Regions from separate parts of the Homo sapiens genome. Here regions 1, 2 and 3 are each linked to region 4. Evidence: fine-mapped expression QTL. A gene starts in region 4. Each other region holds a variant in brackets. All regions are shown on one strand. Distances are from middle to middle. Region 1 holds the start of FAF2 (Fas associated factor family member 2). Region 2 overlaps LOC107986487 (a long non-coding RNA gene). Region 3 holds the start of LOC100996385 (a long non-coding RNA gene). Region 4 holds the start of CLTB (clathrin light chain B).

The links. PIP is the estimated chance that this variant, and not a neighbour inherited with it, causes the effect.
Region 1: its variant is fine-mapped to the expression of CLTB in esophagus mucosa (GTEx, PIP 0.95).
Region 2: its variant is fine-mapped to the expression of CLTB in whole blood (INTERVAL, PIP above 0.99).
Region 3: its variant is fine-mapped to the expression of CLTB in whole blood (GTEx, PIP above 0.99).

The regions. Positions count from the first base shown.
Region 1 is chr5:176,440,765-176,448,857 of GRCh38, forward strand. FAF2 (Fas associated factor family member 2) reads left to right here and starts at 7,621. Exons shown (of 11, transcript NM_014613.3): 1 at 7,621-7,706. The coding sequence starts at 7,644. RefSeq lists enhancers at 7,002-7,191, 7,272-7,331, 7,642-7,701 and a silencer at 7,512-7,561. The variant G/A (reference allele first, on the strand shown) is at 3,235.
Region 2 is chr5:176,122,991-176,131,096 of GRCh38, forward strand. It overlaps LOC107986487 (a long non-coding RNA gene), which reads right to left. Exons shown (of 3, transcript XR_001743014.1): 3 at 3,851-3,939. It also overlaps the pseudogene FAM153B and the pseudogene SEPHS1P3. Among named protein-coding and RNA genes, the nearest start is that of SIMC1, 110 kb to the right of the region's middle. The variant G/A (reference allele first, on the strand shown) is at 4,492.
Region 3 is chr5:176,059,108-176,067,213 of GRCh38, forward strand. LOC100996385 (a long non-coding RNA gene) reads right to left here and starts at 2,948. Exons shown (of 3, transcript NR_103794.1): 1 at 2,588-2,948; 2 at 1,125-1,258. It also overlaps the pseudogene FAM153B. RefSeq lists an enhancer at 5,172-5,789. The variant T/C (reference allele first, on the strand shown) is at 4,938.
Region 4 is chr5:176,411,581-176,419,686 of GRCh38, forward strand. CLTB (clathrin light chain B) reads right to left here and starts at 4,959. Exons shown (of 6, transcript NM_007097.5): 1 at 4,597-4,959. The coding sequence starts at 4,783. It also overlaps a transcript of ARL10 not described here. RefSeq lists silencers at 4,462-4,541, 4,652-4,751, 4,792-5,251.

The DNA.
Region 1 (8,093 bases), 29 kb after region 4:
TGCTCTAAAGGAATGCCCAAGACTGCATAATTTATAAAGAACAGAGGGTTATTAGGCTCACGGTTCTGCAGGCTGTACAAGAAGCATGGCACCAGCATCTGCCTCTGATGAGGGCCTCAGGAAGTTTCCACTTATGACAAAAGGTGAAGGGGAACAGGCTTGTGCAGATAACATGGAGAGAGAAGAGGCAAGAGAGAGGGGAGGAGGTGCCATGCTCTTTTCAACAATCAGTTATCTTGAGAGCTAAGAGTGAGACCTGCCTCCCTCCCACAAGAACAGCATCAAGTTATTAATGAGGGATCCACCCCTATCACCCAAGCACCTCCCACATGGCCCCACCTCCAACATAGGGGATCAAACTTCAACATGAGACTTGGCGGAGCCAAACAAACCATATTCAAACAATAGTAGTTCAGGAGGCGAAATGGGATTTTCCAACAGTCGTTATTTCTGGCAGGATGAACAAGAACAGACAGCTATGAAAGTCCCAACATTACATGAGCATGTGGGTTCCTGGGAATGCAGGATACGTGGGTGACCTAGAGTCAGTGAATGGCCGCTTGGCTGTATTTTGAATTCAGGCCCACTTAGCCACTCAGGATCCATCTTGAAGGACTGGCTCTTTCAGGGTTCACACTCCCATCTCTTAATGGCCAAAAATTTGCCCCACGGGCCATTACTTCCCCTGCACTTCTGGGTCACATGTGGGTAGGCGCTGCGCTGGTCCATGGTGTCTCCTGCTCCAGTAGCAATAGAAAAGCTCCAGGGCGGGAGTCAAAGCCTGTAGTGCACATGCAAGTGACATGCTGTTGCACTGGGTCTGTGCAAGCTGGTCACCACGGAGGTGGCCAGACAGAATCCATCCAAGTAGAACTGATCAGCACAGAAGTGGCTGGGGGTGCAACAAGTGACCAAGGGCCTTGGAGATAGGTAAGACTGCAAAGATCTCAGGTGAAATGTAAGAGATGTTGGATGCAGTCCCTCCCTTGCACTGCTCACTCCCTCCCGTTATATCCAGTCCTACAGTTCTCCACGACTGTAGGAACAAAATGCCCTCATTCCTTCCAAGAGGGACGGTAGGAGTCCAAACATTCATAAAAATCCCTTTTCATTTAGTAGCCAGCAACAATCTACAAAGACTTAAGGTGAGCTAGCTGGTGAAACAAACTAAGCTCTCTGCAGCTGCAACTGGTCCCAAGGCTGTAAGTGATAATCGTCATCTCCTTCCTCCATTACTCATTCGGCATTTCCCTCACCCTTGGCTAGTACTTTGGTTGGCCTGATGCTTTTCCAGCCTGGGCAATCCAGACTTTTATTTTGGAAGGGTCTCAGCCTTTAATTACCTTCCCTTGTCAGGCTGTGGTTGTGGCAATTGCTTGTTTTCCGTTATCACTGGGTGTGGAAGTGACAAAAGATGTCCCAGTAAGTCCCCTGAGCTCCAGACACACTCCTGACTCTGTGGTGTATAACAGCAACCCTGGCCCCTCATTGTAAACAGGGGGATTACCCTGCTGGTCTGACAACTCCTCCACTCGCAGGTTTACGGCATGAGGTGTCCAAAGTGTCCAGGTGGTCATCGCAGCAAGCAGTTCAATGGAAACTACACTGTCTCCTGGGAAACATGCCCTCCCAACCAGGCAGAGGCTAAGATTGTAGGGACAATTTAAATGCAAATGGGTTATTTAAACCATCTGTAAGTAGGTCTGTTGCTTTTCCTCCCTTTCCCATTCTGCCAGCTCAGGTGTTATTTAAACTTGTTCACAGTTCACAAATCACGCAATTTTTTACAAACAGATTTTTTTTTTTTTAGAGTCTCGCTCTGTTGCCCAGGCTGGAGTGCAGTGGCGCGATCTTGGCTCACTGCAAGCTCAGCCTCTGATTTACTTTGCTTATTATTTTTTATAGACACAGAGGTCTCACTGTGTTGCCAAGGCTGGTCTTCTGGGCTTAAGCAATCCTCTTACCCTGGGTGGAATTTTTAAATCCACTTTGGATTAAAATATAAACTGGGTTTGGTGGTGCAGACCTGTTAGACCAAGCTACTTCAAAGGCTGAGGCACAAAGATCGCTTGAGTTCTGGAGTGTGAGACCAGCCTGGGCAACATGGTGAAACCCCATCTCTACAAAAAGTACAAGAATTAGCCTGCTGTGAGCAATCCCATTACTGGGTGTATACCCAAAGGAATATAAATCATTCTGCTATAAAGACATATGCACACGTATGTTCATTGCAGCACTATTTATAATAGCAAAGACGTGGATGCCCATCAATGATTGAATAAAGAAAATGTGGAACATATACACTATGGAATACTATGCAGCTATAAAAAAGGATGAGATCATGTCCTTTGCAGGGACATGGATGAAGCTGGAAGCCATCATCCTCAGCAAACTAACAGAGGAACAGAAAACCAAACACCACATGTTCTTACTCGTAAGTGGGAGTTAAACAATGAGAACATGTAAACACAGGGAGGGGAAAAACACACACGGGGCTTGTCTGGAGGTAGGGGGAAAGGGGAGGGACAGCATTAGGACAAATACCTAATGCATGCGGGGCTTAAACCTAGAGGATGGGTTGATAGGTGCAGCAAACCACCATGGCACATATATACCTATGTAACAAACCTGCACGTTCTGCACATGTATCCTGGAACATAAAGTAAAATAAAATAAAATAATAAAATCAAAGAATTAGCCTGGTGTGGTGGTGTGTGCCTGTAGTCTCAGCTACTTGGGAGGCTGAGGTGAGAGGATCGCTTGCACCCTGGAGGTCGAGGCTGCGGTGAGCCATGATCATGCCACTATACTCTGGCCTGAGCAACAGAGGGAGGCCCTGTCTCAAAAAAAAAAAAAGAAAAGAAAAGAGAAAAGAAAATAAAAGAGGAAAAAAAAAAAAAGAAAAGAAGGCCAGGCACAGTGGCTCACGCCTATAACACCAGCACTTTGGGAGGCCAAGGCGGGTGGATCACCTGAGGTCAGGAGTTTAAGAGCAGCCTGGCCAACCTGGAGAAGCCCATCTCTACTTAAAAATACAAAAATTAGCCGGGCTTGTTGGCATGTGCCTTTAATCCCAGCTACTTGGGAGGCTGAGGTAGGAGAATCGCTTTAACCTAGGTGGCAGAGGTTGCAGTGGGCCGAGATAGTGCCACTGCACTCCAGCCTGGGTGACAGAGCAAGAATCTGTCTCAAAAAAAAAAAAAAAAAGTAGGCTGGGTGTGGTGGGTCACGCCC[G/A]TAATCCCAAGCACTTTGGGAGGCTGAGGCAGGCAGATAACGAGGTCAGGAGATGGAGACCATCCTGGCTAATATGGTGAAACCCCGTCTCTACTAAAAATACAAAAAAATTAGCCGGGTGTGGTGGCGGGCGCCTGTAGTCCCAGTTACTTGGGAGGCTGAGGCAGGAGAATGGTGTGAACCCAGGAAGCGGAGCTTGCAGTGAGCCAAGATTGCACCACAGCACTCCAGCCTGGGCTACAAGAGCAAGACTCCGTCTCAAAAAATAAAATAAAATAAAATAAAATATAAATATAAATAAAAAAAAGAAAAGGCAAGCCAATAACTGGTAACACTTTTCACACTCTTCATCTTGAACTTATCAAAAAAAAGTTTGAGTTTCTTCCCAGGTCTGCTTCTTCCATGGCAAACAGAGGCTATGAGGCTTCTTCCAATTCTGGTTGACTTGCAGAGTAATTTTCTTGAAATTGACACCTTTTTTTGAATTGAATTAGTTCACACCTTTTTCTTTTTTTCTTTTTGTGACGGAGTTTCACTCTTATCTTCCAAGCTGGAGTGCAATGGCGTGATCTCGACTCACTGCAACCGCCGCCTCCCAGGTTCAAGTGATTCTCCTGCCTCAGCCTCCCAAGTAGCTGGGATTACAGGTGCGGGCCACCATCCCTGGCTAATTTTTCTATTTTTCATAGAGACGGGGTTTTACCATGTTGTCCAGGCTGGTCTTGAACTCCTGACCTCAGATGATCCACCCACCTCGGCCTTCCAAAGGGCTGAGATGACAGGCATGAGCCACCGCGCCTGGCCAACACCATTTTTAAATGGGGGGATTTCACATGGAAATCCAAATGTGTAGAGTTTTTCTTTTCAAATTAGCATATTTTACTTTTTAAGGTGTACAATGTGATGTTTTTCAAATAAAATGTATCATGTAGGACATGATGTTTTGAAATATGTGTACTTTGTGGAATGGCTAAATCAAGCTGATGAACATATGCATCACCTCACATTTTTTTGGGGGGGTGAGAATGTCTGTGCTCTGAAAAAAAAATGGGCAGTTCCGGCAATACATGGAAGCCATCCTCCACAGCTAAAAGGCAGAAACCGTCTGTTTTTTGTTTTGTTTTGTTTTTGTTTGTTTTTTTGAGACAGGGTCTTGCTCTGTTACCCAGGCTGGAGTGCAGTCATGACTATGGCTCACTGCAACCTCTGCCTCCCGGGTTTAAGTGATCATCCCTGCCTCAGCATCCTAACTAGGTAGAACTGCAGATGCGTACTAACACACTCAGCTAACTTTTTTTTTTTTTTTGAGACAGAGTCTCGCTCTGTTGCCCAGGCTGGAGTGCAGTGGCACGATCTCGGCTCACCGCAACCTCTGCTTCCCAGGTTCAAGCGATTCTCCTGCCTCGGCCTGGGACTACAGGCATCTGCCACCATGCCTGGCTAATTTTTTTTTATTTTTAGTAGGGACAGGGTTTCACTGTGTTAGCCAGAATGGTCTTGATCTCCTGACCTCAAGATCTGCCCGCCTCAGCCTCCCAAAGTGCTAGGATTACAGGTGTGAGCCACCGTGCCCGGCCCACACTTGGCTAATTAAAAAAAAAAAAAAAAATTGGTAGAGGCAGTCTCACTATATTGCCTAGGCTGGTCCCCAACTCCTAGGCTCAAACAATCCTCCCACCTTGGCCTCCCAGAATGCTGGGATTACAGGCATGAACCACCGCGTCTGGCCAAAAACCACCTTTGGACAGGGAATGGACACTCCGGCTTTTCATATTTTGTCCCCACACGGAGACACATTAAAGTAGAGTTTTAAACAAATGAATTATTTCTTGTAACCTAATCTTTATTGAAAGAAGAAAACAGGGCCAGGTGCGATGGCTCACGTCTGTAATCCCAGCACTTTGGGAGGCCGAGGCGGGCGGATCCCGAGGTCAGGAGATCGTAGACCATCCTGGCTAAGACGGTGATACCCCATCTCTACTAAAAATACAAAAAAAAAATTAGCCGGGCATGGTGGCAGGCACCTGTAAGCCTCAGCTACTCAGGAGGCTGAGGCAGGAGAATGGCATGAACCCAGGAGGCAGAGCTTGCAGTGAGCCAAGATCAGGCCACTGCACTACAGCCTGGGCGATAGAGCAAGACTCCGTCTCAAAGAAAAGAAAGAAAGAAAGAAGAAAACAGAAAGATAGAAAAAGAAAGTGTAACTTTCTTTGAGGAAGTGAAGAAATATTCAATGGTGTTTCATATAACTACAAATTAGGTCTGTTGAAAGAATATGTTACCCAGGCTGGAATGCAGTGGTGTGATCACAGCATACAACAGCCTTGAACTCATGGCCTCAAGTGGTCCTCTCACCTCAGCCTCCCGAGTAGCTGGGACTACAGGCATTTGCCACCATGCCTGCTGGCAAGTATATATCTTAAGTGAGAATTACACAATTCCTGAGGACATCTGACTTTGCCAACCCTCATTTAGTTTATCTGAACCCAACGTTATTGGTGAGATTGAACAACACTGAGTTTCCTTTGAGCTTTGAGCTGCTGTAATAAATTCTCTATAGAGTAGCAGCTATCTGCTTCCGATTTTACCTTCGGGGGTTTTTACTTAATTGACATATTATTTATTTATTTATTTATTTTTGAGACGGAGTCTCACTCCGTCGCCCAGGCTGGAGTACAGTGGGGCAATCTCAGTTCACTGCAACCTCCGCCTCCCAGATTCAAGCGATTCTCCTGCCTCAGCCTCCCGAGTAGCTAGGACTACAGGCGTGCGCCACCAACCCTGGCTAATTTTTGTATTTTTAGTAGAGACAGGGTTTCGCCATGTTGGCCAGGCCAGTTTCGAACTCCTGACCTCAAGTGATCCGCCCGCCTCGGCCACCCAAAGCGCTGGGATTACAGGCGTGAGCCACAGAGCCCGGCCGACACCATTTTTAAACGGAAAGATTTCATATGCAGATCCAAATTTGCAGGGTTTTTGTTTTGTTTTGTTTTGTTTTTCCAATTAGCACTTTTTGGGGGTTGTGTTTTAGGGCGTACCATGTGCTGTTTTTCCAGGACGTCGTGGTTTGTGCAGACCTGGTAAGACCTGATAAGTCCTGAAAGAAGTAGCCAAAATTTCATGTACTCTTCACAGAACCAGCTCTCAAAGCCTTTTCTGTCTCACCGGATCAACCCTGCAAGGGGACGAGGGTGGGGCGCAGGCGGCCGAGAGCCTTGCTGAGAATCACACAGGTGGTCAGTGGAAAAGCGTGTACCAGACCCAGGCCTCTCTGGAAGGTGGGCAGAGGAGGCGTTCGGCGGGAGAGGTGGAAATGAAAACGGGAAATCTAAAGAGAGGTGGCGGACTAGAAGGGGCAAGGGACGTGCAGAGGAAGATAGAGATTGAGGGGTGGTGATAGGGTAGTGTAAGCAGCAGAAGGGAAGGGCAGGGGACTGCCTCGAGGAGAAGGGGCGGCGGCAGCACGTCAGGGGCTTTTGGGGAATCTCATTCAACAAATGGCAAAATGGAGCCCAAGTGGTTTGCCCAAGGATGTCCAGCAGTTGGCAAGGTGGCAACTAGAACCCGCGTCTCCTAATCCCGGTCCAGGGATCTTTCTTCGCCTGTCACAGAGACAAGGGGCCAGTGCAGCGCTAGTGCGGAGAGACAAGGCTCCAGGCACGGAAAAGCAGATGCCGGGCCGGGGTTCCAGCGCCGCAGTCACGGCGGTGGACGGCAAGCTGTGCGGACGACTGGGGGCGCCATGAATGGTCGAGGATCCGGGGAGCCGAGTCCAGATCTTCCTGCAAGTGACCCCGAAGCGGCAATGGAACGGTGGCCGAAGTCTGCCCACAGCTTCCGCTTCGAAGGCGGCGTCGGAAATGCCGCGCCAGTATCCAGAGCCCTTCGGAACCTCCCGAGAGATGGTCAGGAGCTTTTGGAAACTTTAGGTCAGGGGCCAGCGACCAAAAGGCTGGTATTTCGGAACGGCTGCGTCTCCCGAGAAACCTCCAAGAGTATCTGAGGTTGCCGGAAAATGGTTAGAGAGCAGCCGAAATCAGCCGAATGCCATTCGGGATGCTCCGGAGCTTCTCGAGGCACATTCGGGCCCTCTCGGCTCTGCAAGACTGCACTGGAATCTTAGGTCTCCTTTCGTCGCCTAATCTTAGCAGATCCTTTCGTCGCCTAAATGGTAAGAGCGACTTGTACCGACAGTCCCTCGGCAATTTCCGGAAGTGTTCGGGATAGGCCCGAGCGTGGCGCCCTCTGGCGGCGGCCAGAGGTGGCGGGGGGCGGGGGGAGGTTAGTGGGCCAGCGCGCGCAGACGCAGTTGCGCGCCGGCGGCCGTTCAGACCGGATGTGGTTGTGGCTGAGGTCAGTTCCGGCGGGTGACGGTGCGGACGGGTCAGGAGCGTAGAGGCGGCGGCAAAATGGCGGCGCCTGAGGAGCGGGATCTAACCCAGGAGCAGACAGAGAAGCTGCTGCAGTTTCAGGTAGCAGCGAGTACTCGGTGCAGCAGATGCCTCCGTGGGATGGGGAGTAGGCCCCTAGAGGAGTTCAGAACCCTCCTCAGATTGGGTTCAGATCCTTCTCAGACCAGCAGGCCGGCCCCCTCCCCCCCAGACTCCAACTGCCCTGATTCCCCCGGCCCCCAAGCCTCTGTTGGACCCTAGCCTTCCAGCCATCGCTGCGGGCAGACCCGCCTCGTCTGTGCCTCTGTGCCCTCAGCGTGTCAGCTTCCCTGGTTTGCCTTAGCGGCGTCAGTCCTCAGCCATCCTTCCCAGCCCGGTTATCGGTCGGACCCTCTCCGCCCAACGAGTCTATATCTGCCGGAGAAGCTTAGTCCCCACCGCGGAGTTGGCGTCATTTCGGGTCTCTGA
Region 2 (8,106 bases), 290 kb before region 4:
GGTGAAACCCTGTCTCTACTAAAAATACAAAAGGCAATAAGAGGTTCTATGTGGACTTTGAAGGTCGTCTCTATCAATTTGAGGTTGGAAAGAACAGTTTTGTTGACATCCTTTAGCTGTGTTACAAGTACAATTTTGTTTTTTACTCAGGCAAAAGAAAATGTGTGTGTGTGTTAAATACAGTCAGCCCTCTTTATCTGTGGGTCCTGCATCCTTGCTTTCTACCAACCTCAGATCAAAAATATTCCAGAAAAAAAAGGATGGTTGCATCTGTACTGAATATGTACAAGCTTTTTTTCTTGTCATTCTTTATGCAATAAAGTATAACAACCATTTACGTTGCATTTCCATTGTATTAGGTATTGTGGGTAATCTAGAGATGATTTGAAGGATATTGGAGGGTGTGTCCAGGCTGCAGGCAAGTACTATGGCATTTTATGTCAGGGACACCTACAGATTTTTGTCTCCAGCCATGGTTCCTGTATAGTTTAACATTTCCACACGCTGAGGGTGTGATGGGTCTGAGTTGGGTTGGTCCCCCATGTTTGAGGAAGTGTGCCCATCATGATTGTACACCCTTGTTGTAAACTTCGGATATGTCTATTTTGATATTTAAAACATTTTCAGGTTAAGTCTGAAAAATGCCAAGATAGTAACAATATTTTAAAAGGGAATTCAGAAGTATTACTATAATAATAGAACTCATTATTAGAACATTCTAATAGTAGAAAAGGAAGTCTATTTATTTTATAAAATTGTCAGTTCAGCTTAAGATCTAATAGTCTTTTCCAATTAGCAGCAACTTAATTGAGACTACCTCAAAAGAAGAATTTAACATTTATTTTTGTAGAAAAAAAGCAATTTTAAAATAGCCTGGGAAAACTTAGGTAAGTTTTCCTTAATCCTGACTCCTAATTTGTGGCTAGAAGTGGCAATGATATGAACATAAGTTGTGCTATTTGTTAATATATTGCTTTTCATAAATCAATCCCTTTTTTGTAATTAGGTAAAAAGAGAAGAGAAAGACATTCTTGATTTTGGTGACTAGAGTTGTAGATGCTGGAAGCTTTGCCACTAACATTGATGAACCAGATGCATGTCACCAGCCCATCACGGTGATTCTTAATGCCGTTAAGTATGAACATACAGTAAAAGACTGTTGATAGAATACATCGGTCTTATGAAATGAAATGTGTTGGTTAAGGATTTTTTAAACGAATTTCACATTACACAACTGGCTTTACTAAATCTGAGTCTTGTATTTCTGAACAGGGCACCATGGGCCCGGCACTGCCACGTTTTCCAAGGAACCTGCCGGAGCTCCTGCGGAAGCTGCTCCTCAGGCGATGGAGTCCCTTCGCTGGTAGGCCCTTCTTCAGTCACCACAGGATGCCTGCCATTCATGAACAAGAAGGAGAGGACGGGCTTTGAATAAAAAACAGGTAAGTTTCCAAACTGCTTTTTTTCATCAAGATTTCAATCTTGGCTGGGCAAAGTGGCTCACGCCTGTAATCTCAGCATTTTGGGAGACCAAGGCGGGCAGATCATGAGGTCAGGAGATAGAGACCATCCTGGCCAACATCATCTCCTCAGCACCCAGCTCAGTCATTTAGACAAAGAAAATATGTAAGATGACCGAGCACGGTTGCTCACGCCTGTAATCCCAGCACTTTGGGAGGCTGAGGTGGGCGGATCACGAGGTCAGGAGGTCAGGAGATCGAGACCGTCCTGGCTAACACGGTGAAACCCCATCTCTACTAAAAATACAAAAAAAAAAAAAAATTAGCTGGGCATGGTGGCAGGCACCTCTAGTCCCAGCTACTCGGGAGGCTGAGGCAGGAGAATGACGTGAAGCCAGGAGGCGGAGCTTGCAGTGAGCTGAGATCGTGCTACTGCACTCCAGCCTAGGCAACAGAGCGAGACTCCTTCTCAAAAAAAAAAAGAAAAGAAAGAAAAAGAAAACACGTAAGAAATAGTTGCCAAAATAATTGAATACAGGATCTTCAACTGAGATTATTTTCTTTGTTAGGATCCAGGAAATATTTGTGAGGCCATTTGGACTTCAGTGTGAAATGGTGTTAAAAGATGAAGTCATTTATTCAAGAAGTAAACCTCTGCCACCTGGACTGTGCGCAGACATTTCATTGATTTTGTTTAATAAACATTTTCTGGCTTTGGGAGGTGTCTCTCTTGGTAGAACACAGTGTCAAAGATGGACAAGATGGACACATAGTCCATTATTTGGTATTGTTTGTGTATGGGAGCAGACCACAAATTAATGTTTGGAGAACAATTTTGTCATAACACACTGTTGAGGCTCAGTTGTACAGAACTGGAAAAGTCTTCAGCTTGGCACATGTCCTGATTCAGCCTTTGTTTAACATATATTCCAATCCGGATTCTATCTTCACTGGCTACAAAGACCACCTGATACGTGCACCACGACACAGGAGCTGCTGGAGAGGGGGTAGTGTTATCACCTCAAACCCACAGCCATATTTTTCAAAAGCCAGCTTAGAGAGAGGTGTACTGATAGCTGCATAGAGAACATGCAGTCCATCCATTCTTCCCAGTGATGTACATTTCTCAATCAGTAACCACGTGGTATACCAGCCTTGAGTGTCACATCTCCCAACCATACCAAATGGATCACCTAACTGGAGGTGGGGGGGGCCCTCAGAAATGAGATTTCGTATTTACTGTAAAATTGCCTTATTTTTTCTTTTGAGGTGGAGTCTCACTCTGTTGCCTGGGCTGGAGTGCAATGGTGTGATCACTGCTCACTGCAACCTCCGCCTCCTGGGTTCAAGCAGTTCTCCTGCCTCAGCCTCCCAAGTAGCTGCAATTACAGGTGCATGCCACCACTCCCAGCAAATTTTTATATTTTTAGTGGAGACAGGGTTTCACCATGTTGACCAGGCTGGTCTCAAACTCCTGACCTCAGGTGATCTGCCCACCTTGGCCTCCCAAAGTTCTGGGATTAAAGGTACGAGCCACCGCAACTGGCTGAGAATCTTTTTATTTGCTGATTTGTCTCTTGTGTATTTTCTTTGTTCAGATGTCTCTTCAGATCTTTTTCTCACTTTTAAATTGTTTTTTAATTGTTAAGAATTTTCTGTCTAGTTTAGATATAAGCCCTTTATCAGACATGTGTTTTGCAAATATTTTCTCCTAGTCTGTGGCTTGTATTCTGTCTCTTAACACTCATTTTATTTTTACTTTTGGAACTAAAGAAGAAGAATGGTCAGCTTTCCATTATTCTTGTAACAGTAATGGCAGAACCAAGTCTGCTAATGCTACACTGAGCAAAGAAAGTCACCTGGTGAAGTCCAACATTAATGAAATGGGGTAGTACATGCAGGCAGCGTTGGGGGTGGGGAGGGAACAAATGCTTCTTGAGAGTAATATAATCTGCCATACCATCCAGGAACCTACAATGGCTATCTATTACCTTATTCTCTGGTTTGTTTAATGTTCGAATCTTTCCGAAAGATCCTTCAACCTTTCTGGAAGAATCTAATCTGATAACACCATCAAAAACACATTACTTCTTTTGGCATAATTTAAATTGTAAGACATCATTCACATTTATCAATGTTACATATATAAGAACTCACCCACCATATTCTTCCTTGAGGAATTACAGCATGTAATTCTATAATCATTTTTATAATCGTCTAACAATTTTATAATGGATTGGTTGCTTACTATCAATTTTTTAAAAGTCATGGCTTCTCCAGTCATTTCTTGCTTATCGAAATTATTTCATGAGATGGGTCTCTCCTTGTATATTTGAAAATGAGGTTTGCTTCCTTCTACTTAAAAAACAACTTGAACATACCTGTTTGGATCACATGGTCTTGTCCTGATAACTTGGAAGAGGTTGCTTCAGCATTGTTCTTATTGTTGTGGTGGTTATTATTAATATTGTTTCATATTCTGTTTAAAAAATTAAAATTTTACACAAGACCAATGTCTTCTTTTCAATTCCAGTACATTTTTCAGAAGTAACTAATGCTATTGGCTTTGTGCATTGTAATTTCAGACCATTTTATATGTCTTTAGTTATATGTACAGTATACACACATATGTGTCATATTATTCCATTTTTTCTAGCATTAAACATTGCTATGGAAAACTCTCGGAAAAATATTTATTTGAACAGAACTTTTTCTTTTCTCAGATGTACCCTCCTTAGGAATCTTTCTTTGATCCTTGAAGTTTGGTAACAACTTTAAATATGTGTATCCCAGCTGGGAGCAGCGGCTCACACCTGTAATTTCAGCACTTTGGGAGGCCGAGGAGGGTGGATCACCTGAGGTCAGGAGTTTGCCTGGCCAACATGGTGAAACCCCGTCTTTACTGAAAATACAAAAAGTTAGCCAGGTGTGGTGGCTGGCACCTGTAATCCCAGCTACATGGGAGGCTGAGGCAGGAGAATCGCTTGAACCTATAGAGACAAGGTTTCACCATGTTGACCAGGCTGGTCTC[G/A]AACTCCTGACCTCAGGTGATCCACCCACCTCAGCCTCCCAAAATGCTGGGATTACAGGCATGAGCCATTGCACCCAGCCATACAGGAGCAAGTTTAAAAATTAAATATTTATTTGAATAACAAGCTTACATTGGAGCTGCAATGTTGGCAATCCAGATTTTGAACACGGATCACAAAAAGCATGCATAAAATCCTACTGGCCCAGAGAACAAAACACTGCTCAGAATTAAGCGAAATAGCTGCTACTGTTAAGAAAACAGGCCTGAAATCAATATACAAGATTTTAAAAAATGTATTGGCCGGATGCAGTGGCTCATTCCTGTAATTCCAGAACTTTGGGAGGCCAAGACAGGAGAATCACCTGAGGTCAGGAGTTCAAGACCAGCCTGGCCAACATGGTGAAACTCCATCTCTACTAAAAATAAAAAATTAGCTGGGTGTGGTGACACATGCCTGTAGTCCCAGCTACCTGGGAGGCTGAGGCAGAATAATTTCTCGAACCCAGGAGGAGGAGGTTGCAGTGAGCCGAGATCATGCTATTGCACTCCAGCCTGGGCTACAGGTGAGACTCCGTCTCAGGGAAAAAAAAAAAAGGTATTAAACACTACCATATACAGAACAATCTTTGTTATTGACTATATTTAAAAATCATTTTGCACAGTTAATTATATATTGCAAATGAGCATAATACATGAACTTCATTTTGGAAGGCAATTCCTTGTTACACTAAAAAACATCTAATTTCAGCTGGGCGCGGTGGCTCATGCCTGTAATTCCAGCACTTTGGGAGGCCAAGATAGGCAGATCAACTGAGGTCAGGAGTTGGAGACCAGCCTGCCGAACATGGCGAAAACCTGTCACTATAAAAATTAGCCGGGCATGGTGGCAGGTGCCTGCAGTCCCAGCTCCTTAGCGAGGCTGAGGCAGGAGAATCGCTTGAACCCGGGAGGCAGAGGTGGCAGTGAGCTGAGATTGTGCCACCGCACTCTGGCCCGAGCAACAAGAGCAAAACTTGGTCAAAAAAAAAAAAACAAAAAAAAAAACCAGCCGGGCGCAGTGGCTGACGCCTGTAATCCCAGCACTTTGGGAGGCCGAGGCGGGTGAATCACGAGGTCAGGAGTTTGAGACTAGCCTGGCAAACATGGTGAAACCCCATCTCTTCTAAAAATACAAAAAATTAGCTGGGTGTAGTGGCGGACGCCTGTAATCCCAGCTATTCGGGAGGCTGAGGCAGGAGAATCGCTTGAACCTGGAAGGTGGAGGTTGCCGTGAGCCGAGATCGCGCCATTGCACTCCAGCCCTGGCAACAGAGTGAGACTTCATCTCGGAAAAAAAAAAAAATCCTAATTACATCACTTTGCAAATAATCTCGTCTTTGCTGTCAATAAATAGTTAATAGTATTACTGTAAATATCAGGAAGACTACAAAAAAAAAGATTCCTTTTTGTCTTCAAAGTGTTTTTTACGCAGTGAAGCAGTTACTGTGTTGAACAGAATGCAGTACTAGAAAATGTCCTGGGTGTGAGATGCTCTTGAGTGACAAAACTAGGCTTTTCTTTCTTTTTCTTTTTTTTTTTTTTTTTTTGAGACGGAGTCTCACTCTCTCACCAGGCTGGGGTGCAGTGGTGCAATCTCGGCTCACTGCAACCTCTGCCCCCTGGGTTCAAGTGATTCTCCTGCCCCAGCCTCCCGAGTCGCTGGGACTACAGGCACCCACCACCACTCCCGGCTAAATTTTGTGTTTTTAGTAGAGACGGGGTTTCACCATGTTGGCCAGGATGGTCTCGATCTCTTGACCTCGTGATCCACCTCCCTGGGCTTCCCAAAGTGCTAGGATTACAGGCGTGAGCCACTGAGCCGGGTCCAAGACTAGGCTTTTCAAATCAAAGACAAAGGAATCATGCAACCCTCTTACAATTGGGATACCATCCTGTGCCACTTGCCAATACTGTCTTTCCAGAAAACCATTCAAGACACTAAAAAAAGATCAGACATATGATAAACATACATAAAATGAAAAGACACCAACTGCTATTTGACACTACTATTGGTAATGCCTGACATATGTGAAAGCACTTTTATTTTATTTTTTATTTTGAGACTGAGTTTCGCTCTTGTTGCCCAGGCTGGAGTGCAATGGCATGATCTCTGCTCACCGCAACCTCCGCCTCCCGGGTTCAAGCAATTCTCCTACTTCAGCCTCCCGAGTAGCTGGGATTACAGGCATGTGCCACCATGCCTGGCTACTTTTCTGTATTTTTAGTAGAGACAGAGTTTCTCCATGTTGGTCAGGCTGGTCTTGAACTCACAACCTCCGGTGATCTGCCTGCCTCGGCCTCCCATAGTGCTGGGATTACAGGCATGAGCCACCATGCCTGCCCATGAAAGCACTTTTAAAAAGAGAGCACCTCTGCTGCCTGGTCATATTCTGTACCTGTTCCCAAACCCTGAAACCAGTGATGTCAATGGCTGCGTGGGCATTGAACGTGTACATGATTCCTGCAGCTTTCCTGTTGACCTGGACCATGTTCATCAATGCTTTTTGGTACATTAATTCTACATCTTCTTCGGTGACCACAGTTTATGTTTATTTCATTTTTCAGGAATATCCAGCCACTGGTGCACAGCCATTGCCACTTGTGCCCCCAGGGGATCTTGTCAACTCCAGTATGTCCCCCCAGCACTGTGTTATCTGGCATAATAAATGTAGTTGGGCTGTAGTTGTAGTGACTCCTCCCAAAACAACCCAGGAGTTTAATACTGTTTGGCCACCGGTTACAGACATTGCTGCCCCTTCCGCTGCGGCTTTAAAAGCCTATCTAATCGGCTGGGTGTGATGGTGGCTCAGACCTATAATCCCAGCACTTTGGGAGTCCAAGGTGGGTGGATCACCTGAGGTCAGGAGTTTGAGACCGGCCTGGCCAACATGGTGAAACCCCATCTCTACTAAAAATACAGCAAATTAGCTGGGCGTGGTGGCGCATGACTGTAATCCCAGCTACTCGGGAGGCTGAGGTAGGAGAATTGCTTGGGTGGCAGAGTAAGACTCCGTCCCAAAAAAAAAAGTTATCTAATCAGGGACGTCACCTTTCCCTGCCAGTCATTTTGTTACCAATGAAAGAAAACATATTCAAATCAATTTTTAGTTCAGAAAATGTTTCTTTCATTGTATCTTTGAATTTTATTGTTCTGCATTTTTTACTTCAAAAACACCTACTATATGCATTTTTTCTCTCGTTTCCTTTTTTTTCCAAGAAATGTTTTTGTCCTTTTGATTTTTTCACTGACCATTACCATTATTTATATACCATGTACCTGGAGAGTTTCCAATGTTTCTCTTTGGTCTGAGATACTTGCTATGATTTTCACTTTTTAAATGCTCTTTTGAGATTTGTTTTGTGGCCTAAAATGTGGTCTATCCTGGAGAATGTTCTGTGAGCTGATGAGAAGAATGCACGTTCTGCAGTTGGTGGGTGAAATGTTCTGTAATTACCTGTGAGGTCCCTTTGACTTCTCTTGGAGTCAGTCTGGTCTGTTACTTTTCTGCCTAGAGGGTGTGTCTGTTGCTGAAAGTGGGTGTTGGAGTCCCCAGCTATTATTGTCTGTCTCTGTCT
Region 3 (8,106 bases), 350 kb before region 4:
ATACCATTCTCAAAGGACCACGAAAGCAGAAATGGTTAATATATGAAGCTGTCTATAGGCATGATAGAATAAAAAGTTTAAAAATTATTTGGGTCGGGCTTAAATAACTTTAACAGGTTAAAAAAGTGTTTGACAATATTCAACAAATAATTCTTCACCTAATTTCTTATTGAAGCAATCACCTTAATATTCATTGGCCTTGATAAATGTGAACACTGGTCATATTTATGTAAATAATGGTCATGTGGCTTTCTTGGCATATCTAAATTCATGTTAGATCTGGCTTAACCTGTGCTTATGTATGTATATGTTACAGTTATGTACATTAAATGTGTGTGTAAGAGTTGGAATTATTTGAAAGATAGCAAAATTTTAACTAGAAAAAATAAGTTAATATCTAATAATAGTTGACTTGTTGATTAAAATAAGTAGTTATTATGAAAGAGAAAAAAGGTGATTTCAAATTGATTCAGAAGAACTGGCCTAGCAACTAAGATTGTATGCTTTCCTTTTTTTAAAAAAAAAAAAAGAACGGATATAATGTTATGTGACAATTAAATACAGAAATTACAAAACTAGTTAAATTGATGTTGCCATTAAAGCAACATTAAATAGTTTTGGGGGAGAAGAAAGAAGCCGAGAAGATGGTATCTGTGCAGTTAAGATGGTCATGTCATTTGATACATGTAAACAGAAAGCAGCCTGAGGCCCACACCTGCACCATGCTGAAAGAGCTGACCAGCGTTATATGTTCAGTCCTAGATGAAGTGCTGCATTTGTTTTTTAAACACTGGTATGCATTGTTTTAAAAATGTATAAAATAACAGTGAAAAGTTAAAGAATCGTAAGAATGTAGCTAAAGGTAAAAAAATTTTGCAAAGCCATAATTTTTATGATGAAACAATGTATTTTTTATCTTTTACGTATAATGTTTTAATGCTTTTTTAGCCCAATGAAATGTGGAAGTGTTTTGTGATTTTTATCTTACTATAGTGATTGTTTTATAAACAAAGAAAAAATTAATTCAGGATTGCAGATATGGTAAACTATTAAAATAGTTTGGGTATTAAAATATGAAATAATTGGGTATTAATTCAAAATCCAAGAGTTGCCATTGAACAAACCTGTAGGCATAGGTAAGTGCTGAGGTGAAAGTGCCAACCAAAGCCGTTAGATTGAACATTTATGCCTGGAGGGAATCAGTAGAGGAACTGGCTGTGGACCTTCACCTCTGCATCCCCTTTGCTTTCTGCTGTAGCTGGGTATCACAAAAACAACAACAAAAGCCACTTATTTCTTAAAGACAGAGAAAGGATAGTTCCTTCCATTTAGGCATTCCTAAATTGCCTCCCCGGTGGCCCCTGCGCTCTTGGAGGAGGTCAAGGCAGAGCAGACCCTCAGGTGGGTGAGCGATGCACTTGACCCTGAGGACATCAGGTACCAGGCCCACTAGCCCCCGCAGGCGCGGAGCTGCGGCTGCAGCCACCAGCCTAGACGTGGCGCGCCCGCAGCAAGTGGCTGGACACCGCAGACCAGGCCCGCGTCCCCAGCAGCGCGGATCCCGGGGCCAGCCGCCCAGGCAGCAAAGTCAGGCGGTCGGCTTCGCCAGCAGCCGATGAGTCTCATCCTGTGGATTGCCCAGCGCCAGGGATCAGGATCCGGAGAGGTGTCCAGGAGGAGCAGACCCTCAGACCAGGTAGGCTGTGCACTCGGTGACCCTGACGCCATCCAAGGGAAGCTCCGCCATCCCGCGCCAGTGCCTGAGCTGCAACTGCAAACTGCGCGTCCTGGCACGAGCAGCGGTGGGGGCGGGTGGGGGAAGGAGCGAGTGACTCTCCAGGCGTCTTCCGCTACCTGACACCAGCCAGGCAGCCCCCAGGGCCAGAGCGTCAGCGCCGAAGCCAGGCTCATCCGGGAAGCCACTCCGGTGGCCGCGGGGTGCCCATGCCAGCACCAGATCTCTCTTCGGAAGGAGGAGCGGGGCGGGCTACACGGCCAGGCGGGCCCTCCCCTTAAGGCGGGGTGGGCCGCGCGCCTGCGATTTTCCGTCCGTGGTCCTGGGGCAGCCCGGGCCAGCCAGGAGAACCCGCGAGCCCAGCGGCGCCTGCACCTGCGGCTTCCGGGAGCCGGGCGGCTTTGCGAGGCTCACTAGGTCTGAGAGGTCGGAGGCCGCCAGTGTCGCTGCTGAAGGGTGGACCAGGCGGGATCGCGGATTCTGGGCTAGATCGCAGACTTGGTATCGCGGATTGGGATTTGGATCGGGGATTTTGAGTTGGATCACGGATTGGGGGTTGGATCGCGGATTGGGGGTTGGATCGCGGATTGGGGGTTGGATCGCGGATTGGGGGTTGGATCGCGGATTGGGAGTTGGATCGCGGATTGGGGGTTGGATCGCGGATTGGGGGTTGGATCGCGGATTGGGGTTTGGATCGCGGATTGGAGGTTGGATCGCGGATTGGGGGTTGGATAGGGGATTTGGAGTTGGATTGGGGATTTGGGGCTGGGTGTGGGGCGAGGGGGAGTGAAAAGGTGACACGGAGCTGCCGCGGCTCAGGAGCCAGTGGTTGGGGGTCTGAGAAGAACTCACCACCTTGAAGAAGTTCTTCGGCTTTGGGAGCCGCAGGGGCCGGCGGTCCGGGGCTCCCTAGGCCACGTCTACAGGGGTTCGGGGTACCGAATCGGAAGATCCACAGGGCGCTGTCAAGGGCGAAGCCGCGGAAGTGGAGCGCTGCCTGGAGCGCAGGAGCAGAGACCTGGAAGCCGGGGACAGGCAGCACAGGCAGTGGGGTGGGGGCTCAGCCCAGGGTGGGAGGGGGTCCCCAGGCCCGGCTTCCCCGCAGCCCCTGGGATGGGGCCTCGGAGGGCACCCTCAGAGGGGTGGTGCCAAACGGAGCCTCAGCTGCTCTGCATCCCCCATAATTCCCCAGCTGGAGCGCTTGGTGGAGAATGTGAGTGATTTAACTCACCAAGCTAAGCATACACAGTGTTATTTTTAACCTACACGTTTAAAACATGGTGTTATACACATTATAGGAGGTGCCTAATGAGAGAACTCATTCCTCTATCAAAAAATACCGTGAGTCGGCCGGGCGCGGTGGCTCAGGCCTGTAATCCTAGCACTTTGGGAGGCCGAGGCGGGCGGATCACCAGGTCAAGAGATCGAGACCATCCTGGCTAACACGGTGAAACCCCGTCTCTACTAAAAATACAAAAAAAAAAAAAAAAGATTAGCCGGGCGTGGTGGCGGGCGCCTGTAGTCCCAGCTACTCGGGAGGCTGAGGCAGGAGAATGGCGTGAACCCGGGAGGCGCAGCTTGCAGTGAGCCGAGATGGTGCCACTGCACTCCAGCCTTGGCAACAGAGTGAGACTCCATCTCCAAAAAGAAAAACAAACAAACAAACAAAAAACCGTGAGTCATTTTCAGTAGCGAAAAGCTCTCACCTAAAACTGTCCGTTTTACATCCGTATCCACCTGTGTAGATCGGTTCTTTACTGAAGGTTCTTAGAAGGAAACTTGGAAGTGGGAGGTGGGTTCTGTGTTCCTGAATGGGAAGACACATTTTTCTCAAAATGTGAGCTCTTTCTGTGATTATCAATTTTACATAAGCCGAATGAAAAAATCAAGGTTTTAACATTTTTGCATGACACCTACTGTCTTTTACTATTGTAATGACATTTGTAAAAATTTTAGGGCTGGGCGCGGTGGCTCACGCCTGTAATCCCCGCACTTTGGGAGGCCGAGGTGGGCGGATCACGAGGTCAGGAGATTGAGATTGAGACCATCCTGGCAAACACGGTGAAACCCTGTCTGTACTAAAAATACAAAAAAAAAAAAAAAAAATAGCCGGGCGTGGTGGTGGGCGCCCATAGTCCCAGCTACTCCGGAGGCTGAGGCAGGAGAATGCTGTGAACCCGGGAGGGGGAGCTTGCAGTGAGCCGCCATCCAGAAGTGCTGGGATTACAGGTGTGAGCCACCGCGCCCGGCCTGAAAAGTGCATCTTCATTTTACAGGGAATTCTTTCAAATCAAATAATCAAAAACTGTAAAAGGGGGCAAAGTACTTTTTTGCAGATCTACAAGTTTCTTATGTAAATAGGAAAAAAAGCCTTTGCTTTTCTGGTATAAGAATTTAAATTAAAAGAGGAATGAAACTGTTTTCTATCCACAATGTGTGAGGATGTTTTTTATACTGCTGCCTGAAGTTTAAGTTGCTGATTACTTTTTAAATAGATAATTTGGTGGTAAGTACTATATTTTAAAAATGCGTATGCCCGTTACCCTTCAATTCCATTATACTAAAATACCCTTGGGAAATAGAGATACATGCACTTTGTTTTTCACAGCACTTATTTTAAAAAGAACCCATAGAATGGATCTTATAAGTAAATTTCAGTTGCATCCATAGGATGCAATAATATGTGACCATCAAAGGTGACAATAGATATAGAAGTACGTTGATGTGCGAAGATGTATTTTGTTTTAGCCAGCGAGGAAAAAAGAATCAGTTTGATTATACATTTACCAAACATTAAGAATTTAATATGGTAACTTTTATTTCAGTATTAAAATAGCAATTTTATTTATTACTTTTTTATATACAGAATTCGACACCAAATTTTGGAACTTAAAAAGAAGATTCTTAAAACTTACAATCCAGGTAAGACTTCTGATAGTGAATTTCTCATTTCTCATGGTGGTCCTACTCTTGGTTTAAAAAAATTAAGATGTAAGATTAAGGTAGTTTTGAAGGAAAAGAAAAGTTTAAAAAGATGTGTAAATTGCATGTATATATACATATATACATACATGTAAATTAGTTTCTTATATTTAACTTCTTTAGTTTGGAATTAAGAGTTATTTAAGAAGGTAGTTGTAGCTGATTTATAATCTCAAACAGTATTATCTGAAAAAAAAAATCATTTACTTAATTATGATCC[T/C]GAAAATCCTATATAATATTTATGTTTTCTCTATAGTCACATTGTAACAAATTGGACTTGTTATACATATGGATCTTCTAGTTCATTTTTGTAATAAGTTGTTTATTTTTATAATAAATTGTTTATATTTAGTAAATACATAATTACACTTGACCCATGAATAATGTGGGGGTTAGGGGCTCTGATTCCAGTGCAGCTGAAAATCTAAGTATAACTTTTGATTTTCCCAATTTAGCTACTAATAGCCCACTATTGACTGGAAGCCTTCCTGATAACATAAACGGTCGATTAATACCTATTTTATTTGTGCTGCATTATTATATACTGTGTTCTTACAATAAAGTAAGCTAGACAAGTGAAGCTGTTAGAAAGAAAATCTGCAGGAAAAATATATTGACTTTTCATAAAGCGTAAATGGATCCTCACAAAGGTCTTCATCTTTATCATCTTCAGGTTGTTCAGGCTGAGAAGGAAGAGAGGTTGGTCTTGCTGTCTCTGGGTTGCAGAGGCAGAAGAAAATCTGCATATAAATGAACTCCTGCAGTTCAAACCCTTGCTGTTCAAGGGTGAACTGTATTACCTGTTAATTTGTGTCACTAAGGAAGTATCTTTAGAACCGGGAACTCAACAATCCCTTTCTCGTAGAATAAATAAATGGCAGTAAGAACTGTAAAAGTGAACCAGTGTGCACCCATACGAATAGGAGATTATTGTTTGAAGATACCTACTGAGTGCAGAAAACAGAAAAGCAATTCCTTTGTGAGAAGCACAAGTTATGTTACATATTCTTACATAAGCAAAATGGTTTTATCTGTCATAGTTTACACACACACGTGCACATACACACATGTGCGTTCGGGTGCGCACACACACACATGCACACAAAGTTAAAAGTCCTGCTGATTGTTAATGACCAAATCCACTGCTTGCAGGGAGTAGTGGATAACACAGCCTACAGCTTGGATGCAATTCTTTTGGCTTTTTGACTTGTTCTGTGATGAACTGCCTTGAATGGGTCAACCATGTTTTAGTCTTATGAGAAATGAAAAGATTAGGGGCAAGTAAAAGGAACTCTATGATCAGTAGTTATACTATTATACTATATTCAATGGTTATGTTTTTTTCCAGTTATACAAGTTACTTGAATGATGCACAATTAATTTATTATCATTATTATAAGAGATGGGCTCTCTCTATGTTGCCCAGGCTAGAATATTGTGTCTATTCAGTGGTACAGTCATAGCTCACTGTAGCCTGGAACTTCTGGGCTCAAGCAGTCGTCCCACCTCATCCTCCTGAGTAGCTGGGATTGTAGCTATGTGTAGTTACATCTAGCTGGATACACAATCATTTGTTTATTTATTTATTCATTTTTATTATTATTATTTTTTGAGACAGGTCCCCCTCTGTTGCCAGTACTGGAGTGCAGTGGTGGGATCTATCTTGGCTCCCTGCAACTTCTGCTTTCTGGCCTTAAATGATTCTTTCACCTCAGCCTCCCGAGTAGCTGGGACTACAGGCATGCCCCACCACGCTTGGCTAATTTTCCTTTTAAGGTTTTTTTTTCCTCACTATATTGCCCAGGCTGGTCTGGAAGTCTGGAACTTCTGGGCTCAAGTGATCCTCCTGCTTCGGCCTCCCAAAATGCTAGGATTTTACGGATGTGAGCCACCACACCTGGCCTGCACAATTATTATAAAAAGGAATTAAGCCCAGTTGAGTTGCAGAAAATTGACCACCTTTTCATTTTTTGTTTCTAGAAACATTCATATTGTAGAACATATTGTCAATCATCAAGATTCCCTATTTTTTATTCTGGTAAAACTAGGATTGCTGCTTATTTCCCATTATTTTCTAACAATTGCTTCACTTATTTCTTTTATGGCTTTAATCAGTTGAGTATAGAAATACAAGAACCTCCAAGTCAAATATCAAGGAAAGAAAAGAAAAACAGATTAGGGAAAGTTATTCTGTGAAATAACCATCTGATTATAGGTCATGTCAACTTAATAAAAACCTTATATAATGCATTTGTGACAAGGGTTCCCAAGACCACCCCCAGGTTTGGTGATTCACTAGAAGGACTCACAGGATTCAGCAAATAATCATATTCAGATCTTTAATTGATTACAATGAAAGGGTACAAGCAAAATGAGAGGGAAAAGGTGCATGTGGTGGTCAAGTCTGGAGGAAACCAGGCACAAGCTTCCAGAAGTTCTCTCCTGTGGAGTTCCCAGGATCTGCTTAATTCCCCCAGCCTCACATTTTGACAACCCATGTGCAGTGATGTCTACCAGTACCAGAATCTCATTAGAGACTCAGTACCCAAGTGTTTTTTATGGAGGTTACTCTCCCTCACATGTACCCACATTCCGACCTTCAGAAGGAAAGCAGCTGCTCAGAAGTAACCGCATTGTTTCTATAAACACTTTAGACACAGTGACCAGTCTTAGGGCATGGTGGGAACCCTCCCAATTCCAATTTCCTAAACAACAGCCAAGGGCCAGGCTTGCATGCGGGTCTTTCTGAGGACGGCAGTCTCTCTCCTGCTATATGAAATCTTTCCTGCACAACAGTTTTAGCCCCAACTTAACTTTTGGTGCTGTTTTAAAATTTCATTTTAACAGCAAATAATATTATAAGATAAGGTAACCTGGTGCTAGTTTCTGTTGCATGATCCATCCTGTGTTGCAATGCTGGCTACCTTTTTGACTTCTGGTGACTCACAGGTATTTGAATGGAAGTTACCATAGCAATATTAAGCAATTATAATCTGTCCTTCTTATCTCTTTAACCTTTCAGTGAAAGTGTTAAATTGAATAAGCATAATAATTTCTGAGTTAAAATTAGAATAAAAATGGTCTTTTATTTTGATTATGTGAATCTAGTTTTCATGTCGTGCTAAATCCCTGTTTAGAGTTATGAAATAAGATATTCAATCATTTTATCAATATTTTCTTGCCTAAGCTTGCAATTGAATCTATTTGTTTTATGTATTTTCTATACTGCGATTTGAGAAATCATGCCCACATGCTGTTACTTTGGTCTTTAATGATCTCCAATTTTTAGGGTTACCACTGTGTCCTGCTTAAATATATCATAATAACAGATTCAGTGAATATCTTTTATTTTTTATTTTTGTTCTGGAAATCCTGGGATGCATAGACAA
Region 4 (8,106 bases):
ATTTGTGTATGTGTTTATTATCTGTCTTCCCCCAACAAACAGACCCTCCATGAGGGTGTGGACTTGGTTTCATCCATGATGAGGCCCACCTACAACAGTCCCTGGAACATAACAAGGACTCAATAAATATTTGCCAGATAAGTACATCTAACCCTGGAACATGAGGATCTCTACAATCTGGCCCTGCCCATTCCTGACTCACTTCCCACCAGCCCATCCCACAAACCCTAAATTCTGGTTTCCTCCTTCTCCAAACACACCACCCTCATCCCCATGCTTTCTTCCTGCTTCCCTCTCTAAAGAATGCTTTTTTGGGCCGGGCGTGGTGGCTTATGCCTGTAATCCCAGCACTTTGGGAGGCTGAGGTGGGCAGATCACGAAGTCAGGAGATCGAGACCATCCTGGCTAACACGGTGAAACCCCGTCTCTACTAAAAATACAAAAAATTAGCCAGGCGTGGTGGCAGGCGCCTGTAGTCCCAGCCACTCGGGAGGCTGAGGCAGGAGAATGGTGTGAACCCGGGAGGCGGAGCTTGCAGTGAGCCGAGATCCCGCCACTGCACTCCAGCCTGGGCGACAGAGTGAGACTCATCTCAAAAAAAAAAAAAAAAAAAGAATGCTTTTTTGGCTCCATTTATTCTCCAAGGTCCAGCTCATAAGTCACCTCCTCTGGGAAGCCCTCCTCTGCTTCCTTTACTTCCCTAGGCACTTACGGAAGGTCTCACTTCCGGGGTATCCCAGGATATCATACAGTATCCTGCACCCTCTTGTGCAATTACTCATGACCCCCAGGGTCCGTGTGTACCCCCTTACCAGGCTCCGTGTCCTATTCAGCTCCTCAGGGCTCCAGCACGGAATGGGTGAGCAGTAACTATTGGCTAAATGGAAGTTGAATTGTTGTTTTGAGGCCTGCTGTTATCTGCAAGGCTCTCAGAAACTGCTGTGCCTCCTAGCAAAAAGCCATGGAGGCCACATGAGGTTAATAGGCAGATGGACAAATAGCCCTTCACCAGCCAGACAGGGCTGTGAGCAGCGACAGTGTGTTTGGCCTGGGGACTCAAGGGAAGGGTACTTAATCCCATGGAAATAATCCCCGGGTGACATAAATCATAATTGACTTTGCTTTCAGAGTCAACCAGTGATTGATTCCAACCAACTCTGTCAGCTGTCACTCCCATTCCTTCAGATAAGGCTTCTCCTGCATGGGTGTCCTGGCCCCTAAATCACAGTGGGACCAATAGCATTTCAGTGGCAGCATCTTCTGCAAAGGGGCTTCTTCTGCTGGGGTGTCTCCTCTAGCAGGGCCTCACGTTACCAGGGTCTATTCCCTGTGATGCCGGTCTGTACATTTGGCCTTCTCGAGAATTTGCACCACCCTACTCCGCCCTGACCAACCCCAGTCTCAGACCCCACATCTACACACAGCTGCCTGGGGTCTACCCTGACCTTCAGAAAGTCTCTCTGCCTCAGCCTCGAGAGTGTTCCTCTGGACATGCAGTTTCGGCCTCCTTAAGAGTCCACACACACCTACACAGCATTCCAAGTACCTGTTCCCACAGTGCTCTCCACCCACCCACTGCCCATCTACCACCGGGAGTCCACACTCACAGGCCAGCAGAACAGGACTGAGACAGAGACACGTCCCAGGGATAAACCCCTGAGGGTTTGCTTCCCTCAGCTGCCTGACCCATTTTGGAACAAGGGCAGAGAGGGTCCAGAACATTCCTGTGAGCTTACGAGGCCCAGCGGGGGAAATGGGCTTGCCCAGAACTGACAGGCAAGTCAGAGCCAGGCCTGGTGCTCAGAAAACTGGGTGTGAAAATGGAAACCTACCCAAGGCTGATGAATGGAAACAAAGTGTCCATCATCCAGATCACCCAGGGCCACAGATCCAGCCAGAGAGGAGGGGCTCCCTGTGGCTCCAGCACAGGCCTACACCAGATACCTCTTTCCCCAGGGGCAACTGAGCCCAGTGTCAGCACAGAGATTGCTAATCTGAGGACCCCAACATCTAAGAGAAGGTGCCTCAGAGGTACTGACTGGCGGCCGCTGCTAAGCCAGCTTTTGCCCAGCTCTCAGCAGGCCAGGGCGCTTTTTCTCTGCCCCATCCAGGCTCCTGGCACACATCCCTGGTCAGGGGAAGATTACCTGTTCAGCACTGCATAGGCTGAGAAGGTCAGATCAATTCTAGCCCATCTGGCCATCCACTGAGCCGCCATCCCTCAACACCTCCCTGCTCCCCGATCCAACTAAGGAGGGCAGCTGAGCCTTTGCAGAGTCAGCAGGTATGCGCCTGGGAGACCCTCAGAAGGCTGTATCCCCGGCACCTCCCTGGAAGAAGCGAGCGTGTCATTGTTTCTCTCCCTGTCACCTCTGGTCTGAGGCCAATTTGTGCCCCACCCCTGCCAAGGACAGAACTTGCCATCCAGACTGTAAGTCCCTGGAGCCCCACCATCCTGGGAGAGGCCACAACCTGCTCAGCTCCCTCAGGCATCTGGCTGCCCTCAGCCTGAATCCCATCTTTTCTCTCCTGAGGTTCTCACAATGGCTCCCCTCAGCAGGACCTCCCCACAAGGCCTCCCTCCTCTTCCCTGCACCCCGACCCCAACAGGCCCCAGTGAGCCAGACTGAGGAAAAGGGTGGTCTCACAGAGGTGTGGTCCAGTGAATACTGGTGCATTAACTGGGGCAGGCATTTCTTAGGAATTCCCTGGGACACGGCAGATTCTGTATTGAGGTGCTGGAAGCTTCCACTTCAGAAGCCCTCCATTGCTGTCTCAGATAGGTGGCAAAAGACCCCATGCTTCTCACCCCACATCCTATCTCCTGCCAGGGAGGTGACTGCTATAGAATCTTTTTTTTTTTTTTTTTGAGACAGGGTCTCACTCTGCTGCCCAGGCTGGAGTACAGAGACGTGATCACAGCACACGGCGACCTACCTACACCTCCCGGGCTCAAGCTATGCTCCTGCCTCAGCCTTCCCGAGCAGCTGGAACTACAACTACAGCTACATGCCACCATGCCTGGCTAATTTTTGTATGTTTTGTAGAGATGGGGTTTCACCATGTTGCCCAGGCTCCACAGCATTTGAAAGAGCATGGAGCCCAGAGTTGGGAGGCGTGGGATCAAGTCCTAGATTGGTCATTCCTGGCTGTGTGACTCTGGGCAAGATACTCAGATTCTCTGGGCCACCGGTTTCTTGCATGTTACAAAAGCCTGGTTACATTTCTCATATCAAGGAGATACAGAGTTGCTTCAAACTCCTCAGCCACAGGAACTGTCTTATTCATTTCTGTATCCCCAGCGTCCTGACACACAGTAGGTGCTCAGTAAACGTTGAATGGATACAAACATGACTGTGAAGAGCCTTGTAAACATCATTAACCAAAATATGTCTATATGTATATATGTTAGCACTTACTACAACAGGCCCATAAACCTTTCCAAAATGACATCAACAGGAAGTAAAACCTGTTTTGGATGTACCCATGAAGGTGATATCTACTTTTTTACTAAATATTTTACAAAATCATTCTTGCTAGCCAGAACCAGGGCAGAAACATCATTGATAAAGATGATTTCACAGGGACTAGGCCCTGAACACTGAGGTCTGAAGCCAATCACAGTAAATCATAATAGCCCCGGACCACCTTTGGAAAACCATTAAGTCGACAACTACAAAACCCTGAAGGGCCCTACCGCATCTGACTGATGCCTCTTTGTGGCCCACACTCCGGTGTCTAACTCAGAGCCAGACACTTGGTAGGCAGTGTGGTCAGGTGGAGAGGGCTTCAAGTCCGACAGGAACAGGTTTAAATTCACGGCCAGGTGTGGTGACTCACACCTGTAATCCCAACACTTTAGGAGGCAGAGGTGGGAGGATTGCTTGAGCCCAGGAGCTCAAGACCAGTCTGGGCAACATAGCGAGACCCCATCTCAAAAAAAGGAAAAGAAAAAATATATATGTAAAAGAAAAAGAAACAGGTTTAAATTCTTGATCTGCCACTTACTAGTTATTTCAATAGCATACTCCCTTGAGCCTCAGTTTTACCATCTCTGAAATGGGTTCAATCACGTGTATGAAGTGATTAAATGTAACCAAGGCGCTTAGCCCAGCGACTGCCGAATGCCAGGCGGTCACCGGGGAAGGTTAGTGAGTTCCTGGAGCACCCAGGATCCTCTTTTTTCCCAGCTGCAGGAGAGAGCTAAGCCTGAGGGGCCAGGAGGGCTGTGTTCTGCCCACACCTGCACACTTAGCTGGGAGCCTGGGACACCCAGGCTATTAGGAGGCTCAGGAGGGACTCTCAAAACTGAGGTGGGGTTGGATTCCAGAGCCGGGCAGTGGGGAAGCTGGCCTGGGGATGAAATGTCATGACCGAATTCCTGTCCCGGGAGTCACCAGATCCACAGCCCCAGGCGAGGCCTCATCCCCAGCTCGGAAGTCCTACATGGAGATCTCCAAGAAGATTCTTCCCCACGTCTCCCAGCTCCTGCCCCGGGTGGCCTAGAGCAGGCTCTCTTCCCTGTGCCCCTGGGCCCCGGCCGGGGTCCCCCGGGTGCGCGCCCTGAGCCCCTCTCCAGGCCCCGCGCTGACTCACCCCCACTCGTGGGGCCCGGCTGCGCGGGGGCCGCATGGCTGCCGGCAGGTGCCCCGAAGCCCTCGTCGTTCTCTATGCCTGCAATCTCGCTCTCCTGCTGGGCCAGGAAGGCGGCCGCCGGGTCCTCCTCCGCCGCCTCCGGGGCACCGCTCTCCGACGACGAGAAGAAGCCAAAGTCATCAGCCATTTTCCCCGCGCCTCCGCCGGAGCCTCCGCTGCGCTCGGCTCTGCCCGCGCCTGCCCCGCGCTGCGTCCGGCGGCCGCGACGCTGTCACCCGAGCCGCGGGGGAGCCGGCGTCGGCGGGGACGGGCTTGGCGCGGACCGCACTTCCTCTCCGCCACCGGGCCCGGCTGGCTGTCACTGCGGTGCGGGCGCCGCGGCGGGAGGAGCGGAGCCGGAATGCGGTGACGTCACCGCGGGGGCGGGGCCGCAGGGCCGGGAGGTCGCCGAGCAGCGGCCGCAGGAGGGCGCCTCAGGACTGGGCGCAGCGCTGGGCCCGGGACCGGCGCGGCGCTTCCCTCCCTCCGCAGCGGCGCCCAGCTGCTCGCGTCGAGGACACCTGGGCTAGGCACTGCTCCCGCCCGGCCTGGAGGCGAAACGCAGGGCACAGAGTGGCCGTACCGTGCACAGAGCTGCGACAGGAGGCCACCTCTGGCCTCGGGAGCGCAGACCTGGCTCCTGATTCATTCTGCAGAAGTTTCTTCTCCTAGGTTGGGATGTCATGCACCTCATTCTATGAGCCTCCGCCTCTGTAAGAAGAGGAAAATTGAGGCTGGGAAAGGCTGCCCCGCACCTTTTCATGCAAGTCCAGGTCCTTTCCCACTAGGCCGTGTTGTTTTGTGTATTTTTTTGTGTATCTCCCTTGAGGAGGCTTCAGTTCATACGACCAGAGTTTGGATGGCCAGCTAGGCCCCTTAAATGTCCTTTAGGTATGAACCAGCCTGAGAAAGGCAGACCTGGTTTACCCAGGCAGCCTACCACTCTCCACGCTGCCCGCTGCCCTCTGTGAACAGGCTCTGAATGCCTCCTCCCTGCCTGCGCTTTGCCAAGCACCAGGACAGCAACGTTTTATAAAATCCAGCCATGGCCATGCGGAGATTACAATCCGGTGAGACCAACAGATGGCAAATGGCCTGTCAAAGCACTGTGTGTGAGGCGCTGTGACATTTAAACACGGGGTATAGGGAGACGATGCAAAGAAACACCATGGGATTTGGGCTGTCTGCTATTTCTAATGTGGGACTTGAAAGGCAACTATGAAATATGGACTGGAAGAGCGAAAGGAAAGATGTGCCGCCAAGTTGGGGGTGGAAGTGGAGTTGGGGTGAAGGGACCTTCCAGGTGTTTTTTTTTTTTTCTTTTTAATTTTTTTATTTAGAGACAGGGCCTCGCTATATTAACTGGGCTGGTCTTGAACTGCTGGCCTCAGGGGATCCTCCTGCCTTGGTCTCCCAAAACACTGGGATTACATGTGTGAGCTACCAAGCCCAGCTGGAACTTTCAGTTTAATTGGTAACAACTTGAGCACCTTTTGATGTTACTGTTTTTGGGGGGGTTTTTATTGTTTTATTTAATTAAATTAATGTATTTATTTATTGCTGTCCATTTGCATGGTTTTGTTGTTGTTGTTTGTTTGTTTTTTGTTTTGAGACAGGATCTTACTCTTGCCCAGGCTAGAGTGTAGTGGTACGATTATAGTTCACTACAGCTTCAACTCCTGGGCTCAAGTGATCCTCTCATCCTCAGACTTCCAAAGAGCTGGGATTACAGGCATGAGCCAACACACCTGGCCTTTTTGATGTTATTGTAAGTGGAAGTTTTATCTTCTTTTTTGATTGCGTATTGTTAATGCATAGAAATTTAACTGATTTTTGTGCATTGGCTTTGTATCCTGCTGCTTTGCTGAATTCATTTATTAGCTCTAACATTTTTTGTGTGTGGAATATTTAGGGTTTTCTGCAGATAAGAGCTTATTAGCCAGGTGCCATGGCTCATACCTGTAATCCCAGCACTTTGGGAGGTGGAAGTGGGTGGATAGATTGAGCCCAGGAGTTTGAGACCAGTCTGGACAACGTGGCAAAACCCCATCACTACTAAAACTACAAAAAATTAGCCAGACATGGTGGTATGGTGCCCGTAGTCCCAGTTACTCAGGAGGCCGAGGTGAGGGAATCACCTGAGCCCGGGAAGTCAAGGTTGCAGTGAGCTATGATTGTGTCAGAGGTGTGTGAATCAGAGCAAGTCCGTCGTAAACAGGATCTGGGTAAAATGAGGCTGAAACCTACTGGGCTGCATTCCCAGACGGTTAGGGCATTCTAAATCACAGGATGAGATAGGAGGTCAGCACAAAATACAAGTCATAAAGACCTTGCTGATAACACAGTTTGCAGTGTTGGGCAAGGTGGCCCACGCCTGTAATCCCAGCACTTTGGGAGGCCAAGGTGGGCGGATTGTGAGGTCAGGAGTTTGCGACCAGCCTGGTCAATATAGTGAAACCCCGTCTCTACTAAAAATACAAAAAATTAGCTGGGCATGGTGGCAGGTGCCTGTAATCCCAGCTACTTGGGAGGCTGAGGCAGGAGAATTGCTTGAACCCGGGAGGCGGAGGTTACAGTGAGCCGAGATCTCACCACTGCACTCCAGCCTGGGTGACAGTGCAAGACTCAGTCTCAAAAAACAAACAAACCAACAAACAACAACAACAAAAACCAGGTTGCAGTAAAGGAGCCAGCCAAAACCCACCAAAACCAAAATGGTGACAAGAGTGACCTCTGGTCATCCTCACTCCCACCAGTGCCAGGACAGTTTACAAATGCCATGGCAACATCAGGAAGTTACCCTATACGGTCTAAAAAGGGAAGGCACGAATAATCCACCCCTTGTTTAGCATTTCATCAAGAAATGGCCATGAAAATATGCAACCAGCAGTCCTTGGGGCTGCTCTGTCTATGGAGTAGCCATTCTTCTATTCCTTTACTTTCTTTTTCTTTTTTTGAGGTGGAGTCTCGCTCTGTTGCCCAGGCTGGAGTGCAGTGGTGCGATCTCGGCTCACTGCAAGCTCCACCTCCCGGGTTCACGCCATTCTCCTGCCTCAGCCTCCCAAGTAGCTGGGACTACAGGAGCCTGCCACCATGCTCAGCTAATTTTTTTTTTTTTTGTATTTTTAGTAGAGACGGGGTTTCACCCTGTTAGCCAGGATGGTCTCGATCTCTTGACTTCATGATCTGTCCACCTCGGCCTGCCAAAGTGCTGGGATTACAGGCGTGAGCCACCGTGCCCGGCCCCTCCTTTACTTTCTTAATAAACTTGTTTTCGCTTTGCACCAAGGACTCACCCTGAATTCTTTCTTGCGTGAGATCCAAGAACCCTCTCTTGGGGTCTGGATTGGGACCCCTGTCCTATAACAATCACACCACTGCGCTCCAGCCTGGGCAATGAGAGTGAGACCCTGTCTCTAAATAAATAAATAGCATCTGCAAACAGAGATACTTCTTACTTTCCAATCTGGG